4 linked regions of the Homo sapiens genome follow. The protein of the gene in region 4 interacts with the protein of the main gene of each other region in a biochemical or structural test. Each region holds a gene or a part of one and is shown on either strand. Other genes may lie near its edges.

Evidence for each region.
Region 1: the proteins of SYNCRIP (region 4) and SYT4 form a complex in vitro, tested with the Homo sapiens proteins (one study listed by BioGRID).
Region 2: the proteins of SYNCRIP (region 4) and SYT9 form a complex in vitro, tested with the Homo sapiens proteins (one study listed by BioGRID).
Region 3: the proteins of SYNCRIP (region 4) and SYT2 form a complex in vitro, tested with the Homo sapiens proteins (one study listed by BioGRID).

The regions. Positions count from the first base shown.
Region 1 is NC_000018.10:43,274,208-43,279,798, forward strand, and holds the start of SYT4 (synaptotagmin-4), read right to left. Parts: upstream 3,284-5,591; 5' UTR 3,075-3,283; coding exon 3,041-3,074; intron 188-3,040; coding exon 1-187. UniProt on the Homo sapiens protein: Synaptotagmin family member which does not bind Ca(2+). Involved in neuronal dense core vesicles (DCVs) mobility through its interaction with KIF1A.
Region 2 is NC_000011.10:7,253,882-7,258,886, reverse strand, and holds part of SYT9 (synaptotagmin-9), read right to left. Parts: intron 1-5,005. UniProt on the Homo sapiens protein: May be involved in Ca(2+)-dependent exocytosis of secretory vesicles through Ca(2+) and phospholipid binding to the C2 domain or may serve as Ca(2+) sensors in the process of vesicular trafficking and exocytosis.
Region 3 is NC_000001.11:202,703,472-202,708,476, forward strand, and holds part of SYT2 (synaptotagmin-2), read right to left. Parts: intron 1-5,005. UniProt on the Homo sapiens protein: Exhibits calcium-dependent phospholipid and inositol polyphosphate binding properties. May have a regulatory role in the membrane interactions during trafficking of synaptic vesicles at the active zone of the synapse.
Region 4 is NC_000006.12:85,617,855-85,622,859, forward strand, and holds part of SYNCRIP (heterogeneous nuclear ribonucleoprotein Q), read right to left. Parts: intron 4,834-5,005; coding exon 4,628-4,833; intron 1,564-4,627; coding exon 1,414-1,563; intron 1,086-1,413; coding exon 964-1,085; intron 1-963. UniProt on the Homo sapiens protein: Heterogenous nuclear ribonucleoprotein (hnRNP) implicated in mRNA processing mechanisms. Component of the CRD-mediated complex that promotes MYC mRNA stability.

The DNA.
Region 1 (5,591 bases), on a different chromosome or scaffold from region 4:
CCAAACTTCTTTTTGCTATTTAGGTTTTCAGGGTAAATATCAACTCCCTTAAGCACATGCACAAACTTGTATGGAGGAGTCTTGTTAGACTTGGATGATTTTCTCTGACAGCAGATCCATGCAAAGAGAGAGACTGTGAAGACCAGGCCAAATGCACTGAAGATCCCCACCACTGTGGGGATTTCATCTGAAAAATCAAATGACCAATAATATACATTAAAGAAGCAGAGCTGGAGATATGAGCCTTTTGAAAAGCCTAATAGAGCTAGCAATTGCTATAGGTTGGATAGATTGAATTACTTTCCAACTGTTCTGGGTATGAGTTAAGTGTATATTTCACACTAACTTCGGGTACAAATACATCCCCACAGGAAAAACATAAAGTGTGCTAGAAATTCCTTCATTTCAGTGGTTTTTCATTAATGAAATAAAAAGATGAAAATGGTCCTGAATCAGATATGGGGGAATGCTTAATGACTCTGACCTATCTTTGTTTTCTCAGATAACATGAGACAGCTACAATATGATGGATCAGTACTAACTTCATTATTTTTTATTGTCATTTTGAGGCTTTCCAGAGCATCACTTTTTACTGGAATTCTAAGTAGTTCTTTACTCAGAATTCAAGCAGCAAACATTTAGGGACTCAGTGGTTCACTCAATTGTAGGAAATTGATTGTGAAATGATATTTGCCATTGCCACAAACTCATTAATAATTTTCATCCCAATTATGGAACAGTGGTAAAAGAAATATACATATATTAGAGAAAGTAAAACAAAAACAGAAGAGCAACAAGGTACCGATATTTTGTAACTTATAACACTATCATCCCTTTGTATGACAATCCCAAATTTCTCAGTCAAACACTGAATTATACAAAGTATAAATTAATTAAACTTAAATAAGATAAAAACAGAACAATGGTTATAAGTGAATCAGCATTCTTTAACATGTAATGAGAACAGTGAGATTTAGAGTTCAATTTTATCTATAACTGTCTCTTCCTCTAGCACATGGCATGGCAAATGATAATCAAACTGAAATTGTCATTATTTTCTTGAATGATGGCACATTAAATTACTGACATTAGGTAATATCAATTATGCATAAGGCTTATCCTATTTTATATGTAAGCATCTTTCTTGAACAAATGGTTAGTAACACTATGGAAGTAAAAGCAGTATTACTACATCTATACATAGTGAATCCATAGAGTCAATGCTTAATATCATCAAAGTGAAAATAACTAATGTAATATTATATACATTTAGTTCCATTGCAATATGCTTTTATCCTGAATAGTAAATAATAAAGTTATAAGTTCCAGCCCAGAAAGGGTTAAAACTTTTCTAAATAACCACAAGAAATCCAGTCTTTTGTTACTTCCCTTCCCCATCCCCCCAAATCTTCTGCCAATCTACTTCACAATTATAAAACTGAACTCAGAGAATGTAAGGTTAAGAAAAGACAAATGAAATAGAAGATAAAAAGGCCAATAAAATCGCAATAAAAATCCTGTATTTTAATGTACAGAAACTGAATCATGTAAAGATGAAATAAACCTTTGACTTCTCCAGGTGGAAAAAAGAAACAGTGACTACTACAGTATAAAGCAAGAGCTAAAGATAATCAGCTAAACTTGGTATCAGCTTTTCAGTTTTTCCTTCTATTCAAGTCTTTGTGAAAAAAAAATGCACCCACATTCCTGGACCATAATAACCCAAGGCCAGGGAGCAAAAGCAAAGTCATGAACTGAGAGAGTTCTTTAGCCAATGTAAAAACAATAAAAACAGTAGAAAATCATTTTTTAAAAGTAGACTGATAGTCCATGCTAGAACATATTTTCACTGGCACAGTCTCTAAAAATTCCTCCATATTAGAAAATCATTCAGGTTTCAAATGAAGAATTGGGAATAAATGTCATACCAAAATAAACCCAATAACCCAAATGGAAGGCTGGGAAAGAAATTCATTTATGAACATAATATCACAAATTGTCCCTATTGAATAGTTATGTCAAATGGCAAACATTTTCTATAACGTGGAAACACTTATCTACTCCCTATGTATTCTCTACTGATAAGGTCTTACAATCTTGAAAGTCAAGATCATAGTTATTTTACTCAGCTTAATAACAATTATCACACATCTGTAGATATCACTCCTCTTCACAACCTTCTATGAAATTTCATGATTTAAAAAATACGTGTAAGTAAAATTCTGACCTTTTTCCTTTGGAATATACTGAGATCTAAAAATAGTACTTTTTTACTCTATGAAGTACGTCTAATTTTATGTACTGAAACCAAAAACTTGGTGTGAGAAAAGGAAAACTGAACGGGAAAATTGGAGCCCTAATTCAAGTTTCCAGCAGCTTTTAGCTAATTGTGCAACCTATAATACTTCCCTCATCTCTCTGGGCTTTGGTTAGCTCAGCAGTGAAATGAAATGGGCTGAGCCAGTTCATTTTGAAACTCTCTTTAACCCTGCTACCATATGATTCTGTCTTTCACTAGCAACATATTTCAAGGATACAAGAAAAACATAGCAGAGAAAAACACCCATATGGTACGCCCTGTAATAAAATATACATTGCCAAACCCCAATAGACAAGTTGCTTTTTTTAACCAAGATCAAACCCCAATGTAACCAGAGATATATTTATCTTCTCCTAATAAAATATAGATTTACCTACAAATAAGAATCACCTACAAAATAGATGAAACCAACATGGGAAAAACAGACCCCTTTTTCTTTACTCAGTACATGCTGCAATTTACAGAAGTACCTGAAAATTTAAGAACTTCCTGAAGGTAAATTCTCCCTAACAGAAGACAGTTTCAGGGAGAGAGATACCAAGGAAGGGAGAGAAGCTGCAGAAATAAGCCACAATTGCCTGACTGCCATTCTCATTTTCCTTTTAAATTAACTACCTAGGAAATCTGTATTCAACAACCGGGCAAAAAATAAATGAATAAACAGTCCACCCCAGAGTATTCAAGGAATAACCGCAGTCATAAGTTCAGTAACTTGCTTACCAAATTCTTCCCGGCTGGTGGTGATCGGAGCCATTTTTTACTGCGTGTTCTGTCCGAGGTGCTGAAGGGAAAACTGCCTGGCTGGATTCACTTGCCTGGATCTCAAGCGCCGGCTTTCGGAGCGCTGAAAACAACAGCGCAGAGCCCAGGGCACCAGCTCCTGGAACAGGGAGGAGGCAAAGAGGGAGGTCCACTCGCCCTCGCACAGTGATTTGCCACCTCGGTTCCTGTTTTGGCTCTTCTGAGAAGCTCGTCTCCGAGACTCCAGACGTGGCTGGAACCCGAATTGACGCAATCCTGACGCTACAGGGCTGAAATCAGCACCTGCCCCCCTCCCCTCCTCCCTTCAAGCTTTCCTTCTTGCTTCCTCCCTCCTCTCTTGAGGATTCAACACATGCTCATCAATTATTTTAACTGTTGGACCACTAGAGATTAGCTTTGCTGTTTTGTGGGGGCTCAGAGGCTCACCGAGATAAGCCCCGAAACTGATCCCTGTCAGTTCCTAATATAAAATCTCCTGATCACCTAGATGAATAAAAATATGTTTCTGAGTTTTCAGAATAACGTAACTTACAGAGGAGAAGTTTCTGCTTCAAATTACTCTTTTTAACATGCAAAAACATGTTTTCTTGCTTTTTAATTTTTTTCTTTGACATGTTATACCTATGATACTTATTACATTTAGAAAAGATTCACTACAAATTGATGCATTTGATATAAGATAGTTTTCCCAGTATAATCCTTTATGTTCTAATAAATTATTAGTCTAAATATTTTGCTGGAACAGTTGATCTTTCCTGGTCTCTCAGCTCTCTTCCCTTTAATATCTGACATTTGACCAGTTAAAGCACTTAGGAACAGATGGGGATAATTCCTTGGATATTCAGAGTCACTCTCAGTTATGACTTTTGCAAATAATAAGGCGCTTCTGAAATGACATTTATGGTTAAAAGGCCTGACTTCTAGTACGTTTGTACAAAATAGTTTCCAAAATCAGGCCAACATCTAAAGTAACATTGGTAACATTGGTTATTTCAAAGGAAAGCATTCCTTTTTCTAAACTGATGATATTCTCGGAGGTGAAAAACTGTGAAAAATATGGTGTCGGATTCTGATTCATTGGAATCTGAAGAGTGTGCCTTTCTAAAACAAATGCTTAGCAATTTTTCAAAGGAAAGAAGTCAAGCTGTAACTCCAACTGTCAATTATTGCTCTGCAAAGAATTTCTTTGCTCTGGAGTTAATAAGGAAATGGCATTCAGTGTGTGCTGGGATGTGGGAGAAGGGATACAGGGTGAGTCTCAGAAAGCTACTGTGCAAGTGACAGGTCCCTGCACATTGGCTAGCAGCAGCCCAGAGCATCAGGGCTCTGTCTGGGGAGAAATTGGCTTCAGTTCTTTGCATCATGGAAAATTTTATAAACCAGTCTTTTTTCTTTGCTATTCTATTTGCTCCCACATACTTGGCATTGGAGTGTTCCTCTAACAGATTTTTTTAAACTTTATATCTTCATGCTTTGAAAACACACAAACTAATTTGCTGTATTTAATTTTTCTGCTGGCAGAGTCTGTGGTTGTGTCTTTATCATTTCACTTTATTCAGATTACCTATTTCCTTAATTATGCATGCATGCACCCTGTAGGGTTGTCCCTAGAAACAAATATCCATTAGGTTAAAGAATAAGTGGCATTTATTTGTGATGCATATCATAGGTGGACCAAATACATGGTGTGATGTTTACTAAAGTATATATTTTCTAGCTAAGTTATTGCTAACATATGTTTAAGCTCATTTGTTGTAAACATAAATACCTTATGTGTTTGTTCTATAAATTAGTATCTCATTAATTTTACCTTCAGATGGTATAATGTTGTTATCTGTAAACTGTACAGATTGTTTAAACTCTATTTCTACGGAACCCACCCCATCCTTTGCTGTCTGACATCTGAGGAAACATCGTGATAAGATTACCTCTTGCCCAGAGCTAATGCTATTGTGGACTAAGTAACTATTTCATTGCTTGCTTTATAAGCAAACTGAAAAGAACTGTTATTAATTAAAATGCCTGAAGTTTCCCTCATTTTCATTTGATGAATAACATTTTAGGTATTATTCAATCTCTTTAGACAAGCTTCTAGCAACACCAGATGAGGAGTGGGCAGTAGACAGACCCCACACAGAGAAAAACCTGTACGTTTTTATGATTGAGATTCACACCCTACCACATTACTGAATTATTCTTTTTAGATCCATCAAACAAGTAACCAATTTACTGACGTGCAAAATACCGCTCTAGCAGGGGAGACTTGGGAGGAGGAGTTGTTGCTAGGTAACCACTTTTTCACCACCCAAAACACACAGCCTCAAACAAGTTCTTGCTTTGGCAAACACAGACCATTCTGTGCAGGCGGCAGTATTTACTTCAGAATGATTTTTTCACTGTTAAAATGGTTCAACTTTCACATTACTTTCTTTTCCAATTGCAAATGTCTATACATAATTTGAGAAACAATTAATAGAACACTTGAATTTAGTTTTAAGAAATTCAGTTT
Region 2 (5,005 bases), on a different chromosome or scaffold from region 4:
GCTAAGTTTACAAAAAAGTAGAAAGTAAATTTAGCCTACAAATAATTACAAATGGTAAAACATATACATGTTTGTGGACCACGGCTGAAAGGAAACATGGGCAGGTGATACTACCAACAACATCAATTTATTGATCATTTATTTGAGCATTTACTCTGGGCACAATGTTACAGCAATCTTCCACTCCCATTTTATAGATGAATAAAATGAAGAGTTAAATATTTTACTCAAGGTCACTAAGGTAGTAAGTGCAGTCAGATTCTAACTCCAAAGTCCTTGCTTATTCCACTTTGTCATCTTGATGTCCTAGAAGATTTTTTTTTCTTTCAAGTGCAGTTCTATCAATGTTGATTTAAAGTTTTTGTGTGATAAAATACATGTGCAAGGCCATATGAAGATTTCAAAGAGATCTGCAAAGCCTGGTCCTCAGGATTTGATGTGGTCTAAAGCCCTTCCTAGAGCCCACCAAATAAACATTTGAAAGAAAAGGAAGTCGTGATGCACATTTATTGCTCCAAGATTGCAGTGAAAACTGAAAACTTCTCCACAAATGGTGATTTTATTCAAACTTCATTCAGAAAATAGAAATACATACTCCATACTTGTCCTTTTAAAAGTGAGATTGCTCCCCCATTTATGCCTCTCACTAAGCTCCTCCACTTTCTCTATACACTTTGGAGTGTGAACTTGTTAGTTCCCTCAAGTCAACCTGTTAGGAAGAGATTATGAATGTTTTTAAGCCAACCATATGGGAAATTGCACTTGCAGCACAAACATAAAAGTGCCTCAATGCTACTTCAGTGAAAGCAACATCTATGCTCTATACATAATAGAAAATTTGAGGATGATTTCCTTTAGGTGTCAGTTTAATTTTTCCTTGAGAGTTTATCCCACATCAAAAAGTTTGTGCTTTTGATTGTTTATTTTGAAAGAGGCAGCTGGCCATAGGGCTGCCTGTGATGCCTTTACTACAATTTGCTTTTGTTTTCCCCTCTTGATAATTACCTCATGACTAAACCACTCACTGGTCCATGTAGAGGAGTCCCGCAGAGATGAAAACACACTTGTTTAAATAAAATATTTATGAAGGAGCCCTGAAATGTCACCGAAGTAAATGCAAATTAGATCTTCACATATTGTGCATCCAATATGCCACTCATTCCTTAGAAGACTCTTTTTCCTGATTGCAATTAACATTAATTTAAAAAAATTAATCCCATTGTGCATAATCACACCAAGGTCTATTCATAAACATCCAGTGTTTCAAGACTGATTCTCTTTTGACTACCTTAGAAAAATTTGAATCAAGGCTAATATTTAATCTTGATGATTATTTTGGAGATTTTTTTCATAGAAACTATATTTAATTATTATTTTACATGTACATTTTCTAATAAGTGACTTCATTATAATTTAACATAGGGTGACATTTGTGAAGGTTCTATATTCTGACCTTTTAATGACACACTATTTAGACAAGATTTTTCTTGATTTGTTTGTTTTTTCCCCTCTCAGATTGGTGGACATAATAGAGCCTTATGATATGTTCAATGAGCCCTTAAAAGAAAAATGTAGGATAACGTTGGGAAAAGAAAGTTAAGAATCAGTTGATATGGGCACTAGCTGTACAGGGTAACAGTCAAGGTTCCTAGTTTTTGATACTATCTTTCCTAATTTTGCAAGAAACAAATGTGAGCTGAGCTGAGAAGGGTTAGGCGGATGCATTCTTTGCCCAATGGTCTCAAAGGTTGTTCTCTACTTGGCTGCACATTAGAATCAATAGATGAACTTTAAAAATACTGATACCAGGCCCATTTCCCAGAGACTGTGATTTAAAACTGGTCTAGGGTGCAGCCCAGTCATTGGTAGTTTTTGTTGTTGCTGTTGTTTGTTTTTTCTTTGTTTGTTTGTTCCAGCTCCCTAAGTATTCCTAATGTGCAGCCAAAGTTGAAAACCATGACCTAGAAAAAGCTTTTCTTGAATAGAGTAATATTTACATGGAGAGAAGAATCACTAATCATGAGTCTTAAGGCTCTGCTTCATACTCTGACCTGCTGAACCTTTTCTAAACATTGGGTACAGACACAGAGAACATGCAGAAAAATCTCCAGAATATGGAGTTGGAACATGAATGGAAAACCAGTATCCTGGATAACAGAATTCATAATCAAAAATACTAAGCTGAATCTTTACAACTACATAGAATGTGACCTACACTTAGGGATTAAATCCATCATACAAGTACAGAAGAGAGAAAGTAGGTCTAAGGGTGGCTCTTATGAAAAACACCTAGAAAATTTTCATTGACAATAACTCCTCAGTTTTCAGTACATGTGATGTGACTACCTAAGAAGCTACTTTCACTTAGACCCAATTCTTCTTTTAAATGGACTCCATGGCCCTGGGCTAGTTTACTTCTCTGGACTTCAGTTTACTCATATATATCAATCACTTTTAGCCATGGTTCTTGAACTTTAATGTGCCTACAACTCTCACCTGAGGATCCTGTTAATATACAGATTCATATTCAGTGGGTCTGGGACATAACTGAGATCTCCAATTCTAACAAGCTCCCAGCAGCTGCTGCTGCTGCTGGAACACAGATAAGTGCTTAAAAGACTTGTGAGGACTAGTGAAATGACCTACATAAAGTGCTTGGCACAGACATGGTTGGCACCCTACAGAAGAAAAGACTTAAAAAGAAAATGATAAAAACATGTTTAAGACCTAGTCATTACATGATCCAATCCTCCTTTCTGTTCCTTGGAAAGAGTGGATCTAGATAAGTTAGGCTAGTTTACCTCCTAATAGCCAAAGGTGTATGATGGAGAAGAGAGATAAGACTAATGCTTTTTGACCAAAAAAAGTATAATCAAGATCCATGGGTAGAAATTTAAGAGACCTTTTAATTCCCTACAAGGAAAACCTTCTAACAATACATACTGTTCTATAACCAATTAATCTTCTTGACAGCGAAGTCTCCAGTTAAAAAATACGAGCATAGAGCAATTGACATTAAAGAGGATAGTCATACCTCAGGTCACTGTTCAACTGTAAAACAGCTTGGCTATCTAAAGAGGCATCACACACTTAATGTGTTACAAAAAGTTAAAATAAAATAAAAAATAAACCTCATGATTTCCCTCCTCACCCCTACCTTCTTCCTGAAGACTTCTACTTGTACATGGAATTTTTTAGGTCAAAAAGCCTTTGAAGCATCCTTAATTGCCCTTCTCTCACCTTTCACATCTCTTCCTTCAATAAATACTTGCGGCTGTACCTGCAAATTGCATTCATAATCCAATTACTTCTCATCACCTCCATTACCACTATCCCTGTTGAAGTCACTATCACCTCTGTCTGGATTTCTGAAATAGCTTCCTAAGTGGTTTCTCTGACTTCACCTTTGCTCTTCAACATAGCAGTCAAAGTGTTGTCACTTCTCTGCTCAGCACCTTCTAATGGCTTCCTATCTCATTCAGAGTAAAAACCAAAGTCTTTATAATGGTTTACAAGACTCTGCATGATCCACCCTCTCTAACTCTTGACCATACACGTCTTATCACTCTCCATCTGTTTCACACCTCTCCAGCCACCTCTGAAGTCACCATTTCTAGAATCATATCAATAATGCTACCACTTCAGGGCCTTTGCGCTTGCTGTTCCCTCTGCCTTAAAGGCTAGTCTCTGAGGCCTGCAAGTTTATGTCCCACATCATTAACATATAAAACACCATAAAGGCAACCAACAGAGCATTCTAATTGCTTTCTATGGACAAAAGTGCTCACACTCAGCACTTTCCTTTCCACAAGTTGGTACAGATGACAGACTGGGTGAGGCACTTCAGTTCCAACTGTGACTTAGGCTTATTTTTTTAAACCACAATTGCATCAAGTCCTCTGTGAACACCAAGTCAGGGAAATCTGGGTGCGGTACTCCCCCAACAGGGCACTATAACTACCTGGACAAAAAAGAACCTTTCTGATGGCTCAGGCCCGCTGGTCTGTGCCCTAGTCTTTCCACACCTCTGAAAAAATGAGTAAATTTCCTAGATGCAGGGTCACTTTGCTGTCCACAGGAAATTATATCTTTTTTCTCCTTTTATAACCAAAGTCCTTAGTTCAGCTTGAGAAAACCTAGCTATCACAGGGTGGCCGTGAATGGACAATAACAGAGAAAGCTGGGACATGGCATTCAGGTGGATTCCTTTCCAGAAAAAGAAGTCATCCATTTACCGAGATGACTCTCTCTAGGAACCCATGTCTCAGGGCTGCTGTGCATGGTTGTTCTGGTTCACACTATCAACAGCAGGGACATTATTCACACGGCGTTGTGTGGTGCAGCTTTTCTACTACTCAGCTTTTAGGGTTCCGAGATTAAAGACACTCTTGCTTCAGAGGGATGAAGACAAATGCATCTGATGTAAGAATTAATGTCGGCAAGGCAAGGAAGGAGGGAAATGAAGGGAGATTTGGAAATGAAGGGAGAAGTGTCCTGAAGGAGAGGGTGCACTTTGGATGTAATCTTTGGCCTCATTTCCTCTCACCTTGCACTCGAAAACCCCCACCCCTGTCCTCATGAGCTGGCTACTTTCCAACAAAAACCAAAGAGCCACAGGGGCATGGGGCTACTTCAAAACCCTTGTGTCCTAGTTTAAGAAAGCAGAGCACTGCTATCAGGAACTCAGAGCAGCAAGGTCGACTCCTATCTCTAGCTATTCCTCCGCCAAGGAATCAGATTTCCTCTTGTAAGAAGCCTACTTAGTGACTCTTTCTCAGGGGTTGCCTGGTGTAGGGGCTGAAGAGAATCTGAGAACACAGGATCCAGCTCCCGGATTAAAAGGAGTAGAAGCAGAAAACTGGCCAAAAAGATGTGATTCAGAGATAGGCCTCATCCATCTTCTCTTGTAAAGCCAAAGACAACTGCTTATGTGGGATAACAAGGAGAACTCGTGGTCTGGTCACAGGCAAGGAAGTGAGATGTTTCAATACTAATACTTGCTTTG
Region 3 (5,005 bases), on a different chromosome or scaffold from region 4:
TACTGCAGGTGGTTACAACTCTTTTCTGTTTCTCCACAGCTGAGCAGGAAACTGGGAGAAGAGCCCTTCTCCCCTGCAGCCTCTCCCTCTTGGCCTCCATCACCACTCTCCTAACCCCTGCCAAGCCCTGCATCTGATCCTACCTGAGCTAAAGAAGCAGAAGGTCCGGAGGGAGCCTGTGATTTTTGCCTCGGTCACCTCTTACAAATGCGGTGGGCTGCTGGGCTCGCCCTAACCCTGCATCACCCCCAGGCTGCTCCTTCAGTCTACTCGGGTATGGAAAGGGTTAAGCTCCTCCCATCCCCTCCTTCCTTCATCCCATTTCTCCATTCACTTCTATTTTCCCATATGCCTAGTGCCAAGCTCACAGTTACAACCACTTACACCCTGTATTAAGATGCATGGAATAGTAATGGGTAAATTCCGTCTCTAATTGCAATATTTCCTAATTACTAAATTCCAGAGCCACTGTATCAACCCAATTATGGCAAGTCCTGCCAGAGTTCTCCATGGTCTGAGGACTCCCTGCCTTACTGAGAGGCACCTGACAAATGCCTCGGGGGAGCTTTCCTGACTCCCCACCCAGCTGCTGTCCTCCCCTGGTCCCAGACTGTCCAGTGATGAGGCCCTTGGGCTTCTAGTTTCTCTGCAGGGGATGGGAGGAAGTGAAGCAAGCTTTGTGATTGAGGAAAGCCTTGTGTTGACAGGCGACTATCCTGGGGTTGGAGAGCATCTGGGAGCCCTGTCACTCTGCACCAGCCACCATCAATGCTCCCAGCTTCAGAACTCCACTTTGGGGGCTAGGGGGACCCAGGAGAGGAGGAGAAACAACATGCCCTGGCCTTGGGGAGCGCCCAGGCTGATAGAGGAGACACGGTTATTTTGAGTTCTCCTTTACATCCCAGGTGCCTTTTACAGAGTAGGTGCTTAGTGCATTGGAGTGGAACGTGGAGGAAAAGGCGGGAGGAAAGTAGGAAGTAAGGAAGGAATGGGGTGCTCTGGCTCAGGCTGAGTTTAGACTCTGGCTACACCTGCACGCAAGGGTTGACTTTTGGGCTGTGAGTCCCATAGGGATCTGACTTCTCAGGTCTGGAGTCTCCGAAGGAGAGAAGCAGTCACACACCCACTAACTCCCATTCTCCCTGCCTTTGCAAGGGGCCCTCCTCCCCAGCCCACCCCTAGGACCCTGAATACACACATATGCACACACACACGGCTGCTGGGCTTCAGAGGAGCCGTTTAATTGCCGAGTTGAAACCTGCAAGGGCTTTTGGTGCTGATGACATCAGCATGCCATCACAGATAGGGCTGCTGAGGCTGGAGCAGCTCTGGATTCAGCGGGGTGTCCCATCATGCACTCAAGACTGCCCACCCTGGGGCCTCCCTCCTTGCTTCAGAGCAGGTGTTCCTGAAGGAGGTGCCAGAGCCCTTATGGAGAGCCCAAGGAAACCCAACATCAGGGAGGGAGAGCTGATTCAATTCCTCCAAGGAATCACTGCCTAATTTTTGTAAAGGCTGCTGCCTGATTTAAATCACCCAGCCTCCTGCTTCTACTCAACGCGTTAGTGGCCTCATCCCAAGGACCCGCACCTGTATTCTCGGGCTCCATTTGCCATAGGTAGAGCTGGTGAGAAGCGGCGAGGAGAGGAGGAAGGGTTCTGACCACTCAGCTGCTGTGGCCTGGAAGGCCCCCTGCAAAGTGCCTATGATCTGGGGATTTTGAACAACCACACAACTTCTCTGGGGATTTTGAACCACACAACTTCTCTGGGCCTTTGCCCGTTCATTGTAAAGTGGGGACAGCGATGGCGTAGCCGAGGACTGCAGTGATGAGAGCTTGACCGCCCTTGTGAGCCGCTCTATCCCCGAGCAGGGGAGCAGGAGGCGCAGGGAGGAGCCCTGAGGTTCCCTGTTGTGCGGGACCCACACTGACTTTGCCCTTTCTTATGCCTGATGCTTAGTGTTACTGACAGCAAAAGCTGAAATCCTGAGGTCCCCGGCTAAAGTGACCAAGGAAGGGCCTCTCCTGACTTTACAGCAGCAGGTAACCCCCCTTTCTTTCAGATTTGGAGGCTGCTTGGCCATTTTAATGGACCCTGCTACTCACATCCTACTTCCCTAAGTGTGAGGGGCTTTCAGAATCTAACCTCCTCCCTGGCACTCAGCCAGCAGGGACTTTATCCTCATCAGAAAATGATCCAGGGAGGAAGCTTCTACAATATCTACTGCTCATCTTGGATTTTGGGAGTCCTTTTTTTTTTTTTGAGACCGGATCTCACTGTTTTCCAGGCTGAAGTGAAGTGGCATGACCATAGCTCACTGCAGTCTCGACCTCCTGGGCTCAGGCGATCCTCCTGCTTAACCTGGTGTGCCACCATGCCCAGCTAATTTTTAAATTTTTTGTAGAGACAGGGTCTCCATATGTTGCCCAGCCTGCTCTGGAATTCCTGGGCTCAAGCGATCCTTCTACCTCAGCCTCCCAAAGCGCTGGGATTACAGGTGTGAGCCACTGCACCTGGCCTGGGGAGTCCTTCTGGATGTTTAATTTTAGACCCAGCCTCTCTAGGGGAGGGGGCTGGCAGCTAGGTGTTCCCCTGCCCTCCAGGCTCACAGTGACTCTCAGGTCCCTCTGGGCCTGGATCCAAATTTACCCATCACTCTGGCTACTTCCTTGAACTGTCAGTTCCAGAGATGAAAATGAAGGATTGCTGGGACAAATCCTTCCCAGAAATCAAGCTTTGGCAAGAAAAGACTCATTAGGCATAAAAACCGTCTTCGAGTGAGGGGGATGAAATGCAGGACTGACCACCAAGACGGTGAGGGCAACTCCTTCCCTTGAGTTTTAAGAATATCAAAGGTGGACAGTGCTCCCTGCAGCTGGAGAACCCAAGACAGTGTTGTGTGTGTGGGCAGGAAAAGGAGCACGCAGGCCACCCAAGGATGAAAAGCACTTACTCCTCCCGCGCCAGGCACTGTTCTACACGCTTTACAGGAATTAACCCATTTCATCCTCACCAAGAACAATCTACGTCATAGTTACAAATTTTAGCTCCATTCTACAGATGGCAAGACTAAAAAACAGAGTGTGATTGACTCGCCCAAAATCACAGCAAGTGGCAGAACCAGGATGAACCCTGGCAATCTGGCTGTAGTCACTATACTGCCACTTAGAAAAAAATCTCTGACTTGATGTTTCTCCAATGAAACTATATTATTTATCACAGGCTTCTGGAGTCCAGGAGAAGCCATAACTGAATCCCAGCTTCTCTGGCCTGGCTTCTCTGACTGAGTGGAAGATGAAGAATCAACTTGTTGCCTATGGATGGATTATTCACGTAGGGAATTTAGAACTGCATCTGTCTGGTGGTCCAGGGGCTACTTCTAAAATAACACGAATAGTTATCAGTTCTACAATACTACCCTGAGAGTTAAGCATTATTACCTCTGTTCTTTAGAGAAAACTGTGCAGACATTGTCAGATCATCCTGTTACATGCTCTCGAAGCTTCCTACATACCTTCATAACTCTTGGCACAGTCATGATGAATTCTTTATGTAATTATCTAATTGTGTGGTATTCACTAGATTGTAAATGCCACGAGGGCAGGAAACAGGTCTGTTTTGTTCCCACCTGAATCTCCATTGCCTAGCACAGATTCTCAAAATGCAATAGTGGAACGAATGCAGAAGGGATGCTGAGTGGCTCAGTAACATGTGTAGGGCCTGCGGCTGTGCTCACCTCCCCACCCAGAGAGACTACAATAGTGGCACATGGTAGGTACTCACTAATAAAATACTTGTTGCAAATGTCAGACTTTGTACTTAGCAGCCCTGGGATTTGAACCCAGGCCTGTCTATCTCCTAGCCTCCATTCTTTGGTGCTTCATATTTAACCACTGCACTGAGTGACCCTGCCCCCCCATTACTCCCTCTGACTTGCTGTTCCAGTTCTTAAAGAGTATCCCCACCACCCTGGACCTTCAGTGGTGGGGATACTCTGGCTTCAGCTAGGACCTGCCTAGACTGGGGAAGTCCACAGAGCAAATCCCAAAGCCAAGTGAAGTAGTGTTTCTACTCATCTGCAGCCTTAAGTCCTCCACGAGGATGCTTCTGTCCAGGGAAGGGAATGATGGTCATTCTTCCAGGCAAATGAAGCCCAACCTCCTCCCACTCTGTCCTCACTGCCTTCTGTCCCCCTGCTTCCAGTGCACTCACTGCCCCTCTATCTACTCTCCCCTGAGAGGGCGGCACAGGCCTGGCGGGGAAGAAAAAGGAGACCCCATTGAGATATGATAATGTTCAGATGGAGGCAGAAAGAATGACTAGAGGTCAGGCTTGCCTAGGGGCTGGGGAACACTGGGGTAGCCTGGTCCCCAGGGCTTGAGAAGGGCAAGGAAGAGGCTTCTCCAGCCACCTCCAAAGCCCACCCCCAGGTCTCTGCAGTATCATAGACAGCCCTGTCACACCTGCCTGGAAGCTGCCTAAGGGTAGAAGGAATAAAACGAGCTCCAGCTGCAATGTGAGGGCAGGTGAGCCCAGACCCAGCTCCAGAAAGGGTCTCCTCGGCCCTGCGAGGTCTTCAGCAAGGTACATGCTTTGCCCAGGTGAAACCAGCTTCAGTCCTAAATTGAAGCCAGTTGCAAGCTTCTCTAGGTGAAAAGTCAATGTTTACGAACACCAACACTTTTTGCTTCCCCTGGTCCTGTTCTGCGGATGTCAGACCCCAAAGCTGAAAAAGAAATGTTCCTGCATAATCACCCCCTTCCCCCAAAAGAAAACCCAAGTTCCCTGGACCAAGCTCCTGGACTGCAGAACAAAGCAGACTCCCAGCAGAGTGGTCTGGTCTCTCTTCCTCCAGGGAATGGTGGGCCAGGTCTATGTGAGGCTATAACCTAGAAACTTTCCTCTGCCTCCCTCTCCTCCTCCTTTGGCAAGACAAGGAGGGGAGAAGGTAAGGATTAAGCCCAAAAGATCTCCAGAAAAAGCCAAGCCTCTGGGGGGAGTCC
Region 4 (5,005 bases):
TTCTAGGAAATCAGTAACTAACTTTTTAGGAGCTAACTTCAATTCTTACCCAACTAAGTTTCCTTCAGTCTTAAGCAGATACCTATTTACAGATTCTCTAAAAAGGTCTCCCTAATTAGTATAACTCATTACACACCTACTTGTTTTCTTATTGCACTACTGTGTTATAATTTTAATACTCATTTCATTTTCAAAATCCATCCATCGAACATGAAATTTTTGGGGTGGCAATGAGCACTACTGGTGAAGAAACAGTCTATCATGAATAGAGATTTAGTATTTCCTATCTCTCAGAGAAAAAACTCTCCACCCTTTAACAAAATGTATTAAGATATTTGGACAGCTAATATTTAAGACATTTTCAGAAGAACATTCTGTAAAATACAAAGAAAATATGTGAGATAGGCCAGGCATGGTGGCTCACAGCTGTAATCCCAGCACTTTGGGAGGCAGAGGTGGGCGGATCACCTGAGGTCAGGAGTTTGAGACCAACCTGGCCAACATGACGAAACCCCACCCCTACTAAAAAAAAAAACACAAAAATTACCAGGCATGGTGGCGCCTGTAACCCAGCTACTCAGAAGACTGAGGCAGGAGAATCTCTTGAACCCGGGAGGTGGAGGTTCCAGTGAGCCGAAAGAGTGCCACTGCACTCCAGCCTGAGTGACAAAGTGAGACTCTGTCACCCAATACAAAACAAAAAAAAAGCTAGACAGATTTTTCATCTTGCCAATTTACCAAAATTCCAGTTATTTACAATTCTGATTATTTTCACAAATATGGTTCATAGTAAGAGTTCAATAAACACTTAGATCACTGGTGTTTCCCTATGACTCTCAAACGTTCAAGTCTTCTTTAAAGAGATGTTATGCATTTAACAAGTCTGATCAACACCTGTTATTTTCCAATTAGTGTATAAATATTAAAATTTATACAATTTTTAAGTATACAAATTTCACTCACATTTGATTTTTTGCTGCTTGCCTCTGAGCTTTTCTTTCTTTCCTTTTCTGATCTGGTGGCTTGGCAAAAACAATTTCAATATTTTCTCCCTCCAAGTCTTTGCCATTCATTTCTTCCATAGCCTTAAAAAATTAGATAAGTCAATATAAAAATAGGACTTTCATACAATTATGATTCATTTAAAGTTGGAATATCATTTATCATTAATGTGGGAAGGACAAGAGAAAGCCCCATGCAGGCAGTCAAATAATTTTATTTAAAGATGCAGATATTCAATTATTTTTCATTTTTACTTAGAAAACTGCCAACATCACTAAAACCAAAAGGTTTTAGTTTGAATGGATTCCATGGACTTCCAAAGTCTCCTCCAATTTGTAAAACTATTTTGAGATTCTAAAATGACTAAATTTGTTAGTCTGATTTAGATGCCTGTAATTCCACCATATTTACCTTGACAGCACCATCTCGCTCATCAAAATGAATGAACGCATAATCTTTTAACTTCTTCACTCGTTCCAGTTTCCCAAACTGACTAAATGCCTTTTCTAAAATCTCTTCTGTTACAGTATTGGCAAGGTTGCGTACAAACAGCACTTTTACCTAGGGGGAAGAAAATACCCCCCTGTATTATTTCCAAAGAGTTCCATTTCTAAGATACCACCACCCCACCCTACAAAGTTAACTCAAATCACAATCCATTAGAAGAATGTCAGAATATAAAAAAAAAAAAAGTTTTCAACTCCTTGGGTAAATATCAAGCAGCAGAACTGCTGGATCATGTTGAAAGACCTGAAATAGATGCTTTGCCAAAAAAGATATACAGATGGCAAAGAATCTCATGAAGATGCTCAATATAATCTGTCATTCGGAAACCGCAAGTCAAAACTATTAGAATGGCCAAAATCCAACACACTATAAATGCAGGTAAGAATGCAGAGCAATAGAAACTCTCATTCATTGCTGGTGGGAATGCAAAAGGGTATAGCCCCTTTGAAAGACAGTTTGGCGATTTCTTACAAAACTAAACACACACTTCCATATGACCCAGCAATCCTGCTCCTTATTTACCCAGAGTTGAAAACTTACATGCACACAAAAACTTAGAGAGAGATGTTAATAGCAGCTTTATTTGTAACTGCCAAAAATTTGCCAGACGCAGTGGCTCACACCCGTAATCCCAGCAATTTGGGAGGCTGAGGCGGGCAGATCACCTGAGGTCAGGAGCTCGAGACCAGCCTGGCCAACACAGTAACACCCCGTCTCTACAAAAATACAAAGATTAGCCGGGTGCGATGGTACGCAACTATGGTTCCAGCTACTCGGGAGGCTGAAGCATGAGAAATGGTTGAACCCAAGAGGCAGAGGTTGCAGTAAGCCGAGATCGTGCCACTGCACTCCATCCTGGGTAACACAGCGAGACTCTGTCTCAAAAGAAAAACAAAAAAATTTCCAAAAATTGGAAGAAACCAAGATGTTCTTCAATGGGAGAATGGACAATTGTGGCACATACAGAAGGAATATTATAACTGATAGAAACTAGTTAAAAGCCACAAAATGACATAGAAGAACTTTAAATATGTATTACTAAGAGAAAGAAGCCAATGTGAAGGTTACATAATGTATGGTTCCAACTATGTAACATTCTGAGAAGGCAAAACTATGGAGACAGTGACTGCCAGTGGTTGAATGGGGAGGGATGACTAAGCACAGGACAGAGGATTTTTAGGGCAGTGAAACTATTCTGTATAATACTATGATGGAAACACGGTTATACATTTCTCCAAACCCACAGAACATACATCTAGAGTGAGACCTCATGTAAACTATGGACTTTAGGTAATCAATCTACGTCCATCAATTTTAACAAATGTACTATTCCAGTGCAGGATACTGGTAGTGAGGAAGGCTGTGCCTGTGTAGGGGGCAGAAGTCATATGGCAATTCTGTGCTTTCTGCTGTAAACCTAAAACTGCTCTAATGAAGTCTATGAAAAAGAAAATGCAGACTACAGGCTACATCAGTAATAATTACCAATTAGTAATTATTTTGCAATAAAAAAGATAATTTTTCCTAACAAAGTAAATACCATGCCCTCTAAGAGAGTTATTGAATGTTTAACACTTAACAAGAGTGGCCAAAACTAATTAGGACCTGCTTTTGAAATCTTAAAGGGGGAAGGACTGTTCAAAATATTAGTAAGACAAACTGTTCTCAATCCTGAAAGCTTCTCAAAGTAAAATTACAAAATTTAACCTCTTCACTAACATTATCACTTCCTCCTAAAATAACTTGAATACCATCTGAATGTGTTAATCTAAAGTGCTAACCCAATGAGAATTTATAGGCCAGAGGAAAAATGAATCCTAACTATTTTCTCTTCTCTAAGACCACTTATCCTTCAATAATATTCATAGCTCCCTGGCAGTTCATATTACCCTCAATTTAACTCAACTAGTGGTGTCTGACACCTAACCTGTAAGTAACAAAGAGGGAATTCTTAAAAGACAAAGGATAACTGGGGCATGGTGGCTCATGCCTGTAATCCCAGCATTTTGGGAAGCAGGATTGCTTAAGGCTAAGAATTGTAAGACCGGCCTGGGCAGCACAGGGAGATTAACTCTGCCTCTACAAAATTTTTTAAAAAAATTAGCCAGGTGTGGTAGTACACACCTGTAGTTCTAGCTACTTGGGAGGCTGAGGTGAGAAGATCTCTTGAGCTTGGGGCTACAGTCAGCTATGATCATGCCCCTGAACTCTAGCCCTGGGCCACAGATCTAGACCCTGTCACTTAAAAAAAAAAAAAAAAAAAGAGAACAAAGGATAGAACAAATAACTGCAAATTACTGCACCAGTGTGTAATAAAGTGTTGACTCAAGGGATGTTTATTCTTATACAATGTCTCCACTGACTGCTGAAGTCAGGATACCTAATAATGGCTAAATGTAACTGCAAGCACCTCTGCTGCGGCCAGTATAATTTACTGTTTTTAGTAGTAAGACTTTTAACCCCAAAACCATGTAAACTAATGGTGCCATTCTCAAAAACTCAAATTGCTCTTAAAAAACACACAAAATGGAAGTCAACTGTCTACAGCATGTAGGCGACTTCATTACAAGATTGTGATGGCTATACAATTATGGCTAAGTATCCACGCATCAATTTCTATTTTCACTTTGCAGGCACATGGTATTTCCAGTGCGCACTGCCTAGTCCCGTAGTAAAGAACATTTCTCCCAACTCTAAAAATATGGTTTAAAAAAAAATGTGTCCAGGGCCAGGTGCAATAGCCTCACGCCTCTAAATCCCAGCACTTTGGAAGGCCGAGGTAGGTGGATCCCGAGGTCAGGAGTTCGAGACCAGTCTGACCAACATGGTGAAACCCCAGCTCTACTAAAAAAAACACAAAAATTAGCCAGGTGTGGTGGTGGGAGCCTGTAATTCCAGCTACTTGGGAGGCAGGAGAATCACTTGAACCCGGGAGGCGGAGGTTGCAGTGAACCAAGATGGCACCATGGCACTCCAGCCTGGGAAACATGGGAAACAAGAGACTCTTGTCTCAAAAAATAAAAAAATGTATACTGTTCATTTTATGTTCCCCCCACCCCAACCCCGGCCCTTCTCCCATTAATCCCTCAAAAAATATTTTTAACTTGACTATCATTACCTTTGCCATAACCTCAGGATCAGGATCTTCTATAGGATCAGCCCATTCAACAGTTCCAACATTCCCCCAGACCTTGACTTTACCACTCATTAACCTACGCCTTGCCTGGGCAGCTGTTTTGTGATCTTCATATTCAAGAAAGCAAAAGCCTCTGTTTTTTTTCTTGTCATCCGGTTGGTGGTATAAAATGACGTCTGTAAGACCCTCTGCAAGTAAGCAACCATTCCAGGAAAATTAGATGAAATAACTAGCAAATACAAGTGGATCAAAGGATTTATCTAAGATACTACTTAAATATCAAAATGAAAAATCATCTCTTTCCTTCACTAGACATCTTTATAAAAGACTATCAAAAACTAGGTCCGGATTATTTTCCTA